Linked DNA regions of Homo sapiens. The protein of the gene in region 2 interacts with the protein of the main gene of each other region in a pairwise test. Each region holds a gene or a part of one and is shown on either strand. Other genes may lie near its edges.

The links. Proteins that work in one complex are often made in the same cells at the same time.
Region 1: the proteins of NRF1 (region 2) and PANX2 interact in a two-hybrid assay, tested with the Homo sapiens proteins (one large-scale study listed by BioGRID).

Annotation. Positions count from the first base shown.
Region 1 is NC_000022.11:50,169,361-50,173,530, forward strand, and holds the start of PANX2 (pannexin-2), read left to right. Parts: upstream 1-1,370; coding exon 1,371-1,596; intron 1,597-3,899; exon of another isoform or gene 3,900-4,170. UniProt on the Homo sapiens protein: Ion channel with a slight anion preference. Also able to release ATP. Plays a role in regulating neurogenesis and apoptosis in keratinocytes.
Region 2 is NC_000007.14:129,656,180-129,660,878, reverse strand, and holds part of NRF1 (nuclear respiratory factor 1), read right to left. Parts: intron 3,537-4,699; exon of another isoform or gene 3,534-3,536; 5' UTR 3,528-3,533; coding exon 3,305-3,527; intron 1-3,304. UniProt on the Homo sapiens protein: Transcription factor that activates the expression of the EIF2S1 (EIF2-alpha) gene. Links the transcriptional modulation of key metabolic genes to cellular growth and development.

The DNA of each region.
Region 1 (4,170 bases), on a different chromosome or scaffold from region 2:
ACTCCAATCACACTAAATCTTTTATATGAAAGATCGTGCACGTTCGTCCTGGTATAGTGGGAAGGGGACCTGCACGAGGGAAAACGGCTGCCTCGAAGAGGCAGGGACCACGCGGGATGCGCCCGCGTCTGAAGCCAGACCCCCGGCTCCCCGAGGGAGAACAGGACGGAGGGCGGGGCTGTGGGGAGCGGAGGGAATGAAGGTCAGGGAGGCGGCGGGGACCCCCTGAGCTGGCACAGGCCCCGGGAACGTCTGTGGAACAGGGGACGGGATGGGGCGTGGGGGAAGGAGGTGCGGGCTGCAGGAGCGGGGGTGATGGGGTCACTCACGGCGGCGGGACTGGGGGTACTGGGTGGGGGGGTCGGGTGGGGCCGGGGCTGCAGTGGAGGGTGTGGGGCGGGGAGATGCCCTCATTGCCCGCGCACTGGCGCCCGAGCCCAGAGAAGAGAGCGCCGGCTTCCCCGCCAGTGGCCGCAGCACCCCAGGAGCGCGGGAACCTCCGGACCCACAGCGGGGCGCGGCCGGGGCAGGTGGGGGGCCCAGGCGAGGAAGCCCCCTCTGCGCCCTGGGCTGGGCGAAGGGCCCTGCGATGCGACGGGGGCAGCCCCAGCGCGCGCCCAGTCCTCACGTCGCCACCGAGCGGCGCCCCCGCCCCAGCCCGGAGCCCCGCAGGGCCGCCCCCACCCCTGCCCACCCTCCCGCGGGCCGGGGCAGCCCCCCGCCAGCCACCCCGCGTTCCCAGGAAGAGGGACCGGTCATTACTCATTCATGTCCTTTCATTTCATTTCAATATTTTCTGCAAAGTCATCGCCCGCGCCGCATCTGCGTGGCGGGGGGCGGGGTGGGGCGGAGCCACGCCGCGGAGTCGCCGCAGGTAAACAGCCCCCTCCCCGCGGCGGGAGCGGGGCCGCCGGCCCCAGGCAGGGACAGCAGCCGCCGCCCGCGCTCCGGGCCGGGATCCCGCCGCCGCCCCCGCCGGAGGCACGCGCCAGGGCGGGGGCCGGGCTGCGGCGGAGGCGGGCGGCTCCGGTGCCCCCCGCCGCCGCCCCGGCCCGGCCCGCCCGCCCCCTGACCCCGGGGGCGGCGGCGGAGCGCCCCCCAAACCCCGCTGCGGGCTCCGCGCCCGGCCAGCCCCGCACCCGCCGCGCGCCTCCGGCTACTCCCATCCCCCGGAGCCCCCCGCTCGGTCCCGGCGTCCCCTGCCACCCTCTCCCGCGGCCCGCGGCCCCGTCCCCGTCCCGCGCCCCCACGCTCCCCGATCCCCGCCCCCGCGCCGCGCGTCCCCTCCCGCCCGCGCCCCCCTCGCCGGGCCCCGCCCCGCGCCCCCCGCCCCGCCCGCGCCCCCCGCCGGGCCGCGCCCCCCGCCCCCCATGCACCACCTCCTGGAGCAGTCGGCGGACATGGCGACCGCGCTGCTGGCGGGAGAGAAGCTGCGGGAGCTGATCCTGCCGGGCGCGCAGGACGACAAGGCGGGCGCGCTGGCCGCGCTGCTTCTGCAGCTGAAGCTGGAGCTGCCGTTCGACCGGGTGGTCACCATCGGCACCGTGCTGGTGCCCATCCTGCTGGTCACCCTGGTCTTCACCAAGAACTTCGCAGGTGAGGCCGGCGGCCGGGGCGCGGGGCGCGGGCAGAGGGGGCGTCCGCAGGTGTCCGGGAGCTGGCGCTTCCCGCGTCCCCGGCGGCTCCGTCCAGCCGCGCCCACCGTGGCCTGGCTGCGTCCGCGGCGTCCCAGGCACCTTCCACAGCCGCCCCCATCCTAGCAGGTGTCGCTGGTCGCACAGACCCCTCGTCTCTATTTTATTGTTGTTCTTCCTTCCATTCGTCCGCCCATGGCCGCGGGTGGGACTAGGCCTGTCTGGACCCAGGGGTCCCAAATGTCATGAGACACGGGGTCTGGTTTGGAGAATGTCACAAGCAGCGCCTGAGGGGATGCAGGGTGGCCAGGTGGGGACCAGGAAAGGCCGGGATGGGTGTTGACAGCAGAGAGCTGATTACAGGGGCTGGTGGAGCTGCCGGGCAGGGTTCCCAGGCTGGACTTGGGTGGAAGGAGGGCAGAGAGAGTCTCTGAGAGGCCCAGGCCCTCCACCCCTCAGGCAGGGCGAGGCCTCTCCGGGTGCACTGGGGGCCTCCGAAGGTTTGAAGCAGGGGGGCTAGCATGGGGCAGGGCCACGTGTCAGAGCAGGGAGCCTGGAGCTCCTGCAGGGAGATGGGGGCTGGACCAGGGCAGGGACCCGCGCTGGTTAGATCAGGACCTGTGGGGGCACTTGAAGCCACCCAGGCGAGGCAGGAAGATGGACAGAGCAGCCAGCCTGCCTGTGAGCCTCTGCGGGGTGGGGTCCTGGTGCCTCTGCCCTCCCCAAGGAGTGGGGCGAGACAGGTGGAGCCGAGAACTTCCTCCCCTGGGGTCTGGGCCAAGGCAAGGGGGATCAGGGTCTCCTGGCCTGTGTGGCCCAGAGGTACTAGTCTGCAGCGGGGAGGGGTGTTGGGACCCTGGGGCCCTCTCTTCTGCAGCCTCCAAACCTCAGCAGACCCTGCCTCAGCACTGGCGCTTCCCAAATCTCCCAGATGCCTTGCCTTAAGGAGTCCCCGTGGCCTGGAGACACCAGGCCTGAGGGTGGACATTGGCCAGGCTGTCTGATCCCACCCAGGGGTGGAGGAGGCCTCTGCTGGTCTCCTCTTCGACACTGGAGGCCAGACCCCGGGGATTAGAGGACCCCTGGGGTGGGCACACAGCACACTCTGCAGAGCAGGGAGCCCAGGCGTGCGGTGGGGCCTTGGGGCAGGCCCAGCATGTCCAGACACCACGTGTGTTCTCTGTGTTTGTAGCAACCAAGTACCGCAAACTAGGCAGTTTCAAACAGCAGACATTTATCTCTCATGGTTCCGGAGGCCAAAAGTCCAAAATCGAGGTGTCGGCAGGGCCCTGCTCCCTCCCACAGCTCTAGGAAAGGGACATTCCAGCCTCTTCAGCCTCTGGTGCTGCCGGCAATCCTTGGGCGCCTTGGCTCGTGGCCGTGCCACCAGTCTCTGCCTCTGTCTTCTCATGGGCTTCTTCCCTCCCTGTCTGTGTCCAAATTTCCTTTTTTTTTGAGACAGAGTCTTGGTATGTCGCCCAGGCTGGAGTGCGGTGGTGCGATCTGCAACCTCCACCTCTCGGGCTCAGGTGTTCTTCCTGCCTCAGCCCCGAGCCCCCAGTAGCAGGGACCACAGGCATCCCACACCACACCCAGCTAATTTTTGTGCCATGTTCCCCAGGCTGGTCTCAAACTCCTGGGCTCAAGTGATCCTCCCATCTCAGCTTCCCAAAGTGCTGGGACTACAGGCGTGAGCCACTGTGCCCTTTTCTCTTCTTCACCACCCCCCCGCTTTTTTTATTTTTATTTTTTGAGACAAAGTCTCGCTCTGTCACCCAGGCTGGAGTGCAGTGGTGCGATGTCGGCTCACTGCGACCTTTGCCTCCCGGGTTCAAGCGATTCTCCTGCTTCAGCTTCCCAAGTAGCTGGGACTACAGGCACCCGCCACCACGCCTGGCTCATTTTTTTTTTTTTTTTTTTGAGACAGAGTCTCGCTCTGTCACCCAGGCTGGAGTATAGTGGCGCGATCTCTGCTCACTGCAAGCTTCGCCTCCTGGGTTCACACCATTCTCCTGCCTCAGCCTCCCAAGTAGCTGGGACTACAGGCGCCCGCCACCATGCCCGGCTAATTTTTTGTATTTTTAGTAGAGACGGGGTTTTGCCATGTTGGCCAGGATGGTCTCGATCTCCTGACCTCGTGATCCGCCCACCTTGGCCTCCCAAAGTGCTGGGATTACAGGCGTTGAGCCACCGTGCCTGACCCATTTTTTGTATTTTTAGTAGAGACGGGGTTTTGCCATGTTGGCCAGGCTGGTCTCGATCTCCTGATCTCAGGTGATCCGCCCGCCTCGGCCTCCCAAATTGCTGGGATTACAGGCATGAGCCACCGCACCCGGCCCAACTTTCTTCTTTAAAGCGGAAAGGAAGCGAGCGCTCTGCCCCCGAGCACCCTCCCAGGAGCCTATGGGCTGGTTCCTCTTTTTGGCTTCATCATCCTTGGAGGGCCGAGCGCAGCCCCTGATGCCGCAGGGCAGGGTTGGGCCTGAGGGCCCGTGTGGCCAGCTGCTGTCTCAGGATGCAGTACCCTCGAAGGTTG
Region 2 (4,699 bases):
GTCGGAGACCTCACACAGAGTCCCTTCGGGGGCACTGCCTAGTAGAGCTGTGAGAAGAGGGCCACTGTCCTCCAGCCCCCAGAATAGTAGATCCACCGACAGCTTGCATCTTTTGCCTGGAAAAGCCACAGACACTCAACAACAGCCCATGAAAGCAGCTGGGAGGGAGGCTGTACCCTGCAAAGCCACAGGGGGCAGAGCTGTCCAAGACCATGGGACCCCACCTCTTGTATCAGCATGACCTGGATGTGAGACATGGAATCAAAGGAGATCATTTTGGAGCTTTAAGATTTGACGGCCCTGCTGGATTTCGGACTTGCATGGGGCCTGTAGCCCTTTTATTTGGCCAATTTCTCCCACTTGGAATGCCTGTATTTACCCAATCCCTGTACCCCCACTGTATCTAGGAAGTAACTAACTTGCTTTTGATTTTACAGGCTCATAGGCAGAGGGACTTGCCTTGTCTCAGATGAGAATTTGGACTGTGGACTTTTAAGTTAATGCTGAAATGAGTTAAGACTTTGGGGGACTGTTAGAAAGGCATGATTGGTTTTGAAATGTGAGGACATGAAATTTGGGAGGGGCCAGGGGTGGAATAATATGGTTTGGCTCTATGTCCCCACTCAAATCTCATCTTGAATTGTACTCTCATAATTCCCACATGTTGTGGGAAGGACCCGGTGGGAGGTAATTGAATCATGGGGGCAGATCTTTCCCATGCTGTTCTTGTGATAGTGAATAAGTCTCACAAGATCTGATGGTTTTAAAAGGAGGAGTTTCCCTGCACAAGCTCTCTCTCTTTTTGCCTGCTGTCATCCATGTAAGATGCGACCTGCTCTTCCTTGCCTTCCACCATGATTGTGAGGCCTCCCTAGCCAGGTGGAACTGTAAGTCCATTAAAACCTCTTTCTTCCCAGTCTTGGGTATCTCTTATCAGCAGCATGAAAATGGACTAATACAACAGCTAAAGAAGAAAATCTTCTGTCTTTCACAAGCTGAAAGACAGAAGAAACTACACAGAAAGATGATACATACAGAACAGATGGTTAAGAGACATACAAGTGAGGAAGACTAACATAAGTAACTGGAGCCATGGAATGAAAAGAGATGGAATGCAGCAGAAGCAAAATCTCATGGCTAAAATTTCCGGGAGAGGGGGGCAGGCCATGTGGGAGATAATCTTTGAAAGAGTAGCGGTTAGAATGAAATAGCTGAATTCTCAATAGCAGCAATGGAATCCAGAAGACAGTGGAACAGTACCTTCAACATGAGGAAAGAATAACCACCAAGCTAGAATTCCATACTCAGTGAAAACATCCTTCAAGGTTGAAGTTTAAGTAAAAACATTCACAGACAAGCAAAAATAGAACTTGTTACTAGCAGATCCATGTTAAAGCAAATATTAAATGGTGTCTTTAGGCAGAAGTAAAACCATCTCAGGAGACCAGTTGGAGATGCAGGAAAAAAAATTAACATTATTTTTTAAATAAAAATATTGTTCGCTGGATGCGGTGGCTCACGCCTATAATCCCAGCACTCTGGGAGGCCGAGATGGGTGGATCACCCGAGGTCAGGAATTCAAGACCGGCCTGGCCAACAGGGTGAAACCCCATCTCTACTAAAAACACAAAAATTAGCTGGGCATGGTGACGCACACCTGTAATCCCAGCTACTCGGGAGGCTGAGACAGGAGAGTTGCTCCAACCCAGGAGGCAGAAGCTGCAGTGAGCCAAGATTGTGCCACTGCACTCCAGCCTGGGCGACAGAGTGAGACTCCATCTCAAAAAAAAAAAAAAAAAAAAAAAGTCCTGTGGTGTTTAAAATACAGTTGTCCCTTCAAATCCTCTTGAGATTGTTTCTAGCATCTTGATGTGTAGATGCTCAAGTCCCTGATATAAAATGGTGTAGTAGTTTCACATGACCTATTCACGTCCTTCTGTATCATTTCTAGGTTACTAATACTAATATTATAATACCTAATACAGTGTAAATGCTATACAAATAGTTGTTGTATTGGCCTTTTATTTGTATTATTTTTAATTGTTATATTGTTACTTTTAATTTTTTCCTAATACTTTTGATCAAAATTGGTTGAATGTGCAGATGTGGAGCCCACAGATAAAGAGAGCCAACTGTATACCAAAAATGAATACAAAGGACAACAATAGCATATAGGATGGGCGCATGAAATGCAAGTGTTCTAAGAAATTTGTATTATCCCTGTAGAGGTTAAAAGTTCCAAGTACATACAACGTTTTGCTTTTCCTTTTTTTTTTTTTTTTCAACTGGACACAGGCTCTCACTCTGTCACTCACGCTGTAGTGCAGTGGTGTAATCATAGCTCACTGCACCCTCAAACACCTGGGCTCAAGTGATCAGTCATCCCACCACAGCCTCCCAAGTAGCTGGGACTAGGGAGCACGTCACCACACCCAGCTAATTTTTTTTTGGTAGAGATGGGATTGCACTACATTGCCCAGGCTGGTCTCAAACTCCTGGGCTCAAGTGATCCTCCCACCTTGGCCTCCCAAAGTGCTGGGATTACAGGTGTGAGCCACTGAGCCTAGTCAACATAAGGCATTGATAAATAAAGGATGTATGTTACAATTTCTACAGGTATTGATAATAGTAAAAGCTTATAACTTTCAAACTAACAAGAAAAAAATGAAAAAATACAAAATTTTCAATCACTACAAAAGAAAACGCCAAGAAAGAGAAAAGTAAACAGAACAGGTAGGGCAAAGAGAAAGCATATAGAAAAGAAGGTAAATTTAAATCTAAATACATGTCAGTGATTCTGTTTAACGTAATTGGAATAAATGCTTCAGTTTAAAGCCAAAACATAGGCAGAATAGATGAAAAAATAAAACCAAAGCCATAACACTGATAGTAAGTGATTACAGACCTCAAGTCTCAGTATAATACAGGCTCAAGTTATAACTGCAAGGCTTAAAAAAGTTGTGATAAAGGCCAGGCATAGTAACTCACACCCGTAATGCCAATAATTTAGGAGGCCGAGGCAGAAGGATCGCTTGAGCCCAGGACTTTGAGGCCAACCTGGGTAACACAGTGACATTTCTGTCTCTACAAAATATACAAAAATTAGCCAGATGTGGTGGTACACATCAGCAGTCCCAGCTACTCCAGAGGCTGAGATGGGAGAATCACTTGAACCCGGAAGATCAAGGCTGCAGTGAATCATGATTGTGCTGCTGCACCCCAGCCTGAGCAACAGAGTGAGACGCTGTCTCCAAAAAAAAAAAAAAAAAAATTAAAGAAGAGCTTCTAATCCAAACAACACTACCTGCAGCTGCCAGATGAGCTGTCACCTCATCAGCTGCTGTGGAGTTGAGTATATCTGAGTCATCGTAAGAGGTGTCCTCGGGAGAAGAAGGCGAGTCTTCATCAGCACTCAGCATACTATGCTCGGTGTAAGTAGCCACATGGACCTGCTGCACTTGCTGGGCCACTGCATGTGCTTCTATGGTAGCCATATGTTCGGTTTGGGTCACTCCGTGTTCCTCCATGAAGTTCTACTGTCAGACAAAAAAGAAAAAGAACAGGATTCAGTGTGTAATATAACACAATGTTTAAACTAAGAGATATTTTATTCAAGAGCAGAGGAACCTTGACAAAATTCCAATTTCACTACTTACCGTGCCACACCAAGTCACAGGAAATGGGAAGCACCATGCAAATGTGACATAAAAATGACAGAGTGGTGTTCTTACGTGAAACCATTTTGATGGAAATTCGCTGTACTAATTTTATACCTCAGATCACAAAACAACAGATACCCTTAATAATAAAAAGACATTCAAATATAACAATAAAAACATACTTAAGATAGCTCAGTGACTAGCATTTGGCCTTGTGAACATAAGAACACTTAGTAAATAAGTGAAATACTTAACATTTTCTTTGTATGTCAAAGACGAGTGAGAGTCAAATAACTTTTTTCCCAAAAATTCAAATTGGTCTTTCTGCTTATAAAACTGCTTCTTGAGGGCATGGCGGCAAGTGCCTGTAGTCCCAGCACTTTGGGAGGCCCAGGCAGGTGGATCATCTGAGGTCAGGAGTTCGAGACCAGCCTGGCCAACATGGCAAAACCCTGTCTCTATTAAAAATACAAAAAAATTAGCCAGGCGTGGTGGTGGGCGCCTGTAATCCCAGCTACTTGGGAGGCTGAGGCAGGAGAAGTGCTTGAACTCGGGAGGCAGAGGTTGCAGTGAGCCAAGGTTGTGCCATTGTACTCCAGCCTGGGAGACAGAGCAAGACTCTGTCTCAAAAACAAACAAACACCCCCTCCAAAAAAAAACCCAAAAAACTGTGCTTCTTGTAAACCCCAAAATGATACAGTAATGTATAAAGCAGTAAGGTTAAAAGTTGGCTCTTCTATTACACTTATAATCTCCACTCCCCCCCACCCCAGAAGTTCATTATTTTTGAAAAATAAATTTGGAGCATACATATATATAGATTTAAAATAAAAACAGGTTCATATTATACATATTGTCTGTCTTTTTCATATTACAATATATCTGGACATTGTTACATGTCAAAACATAACAGATCTACCATATCTTTTTTAAACAGCTGCATAATACTTTATTATATGCATGTGTCATAATTTATATAACCAGTCACTTGCTGATCAAATATGCTGCCAAGTTTTTGCTATTATAAACTAAACATCAAT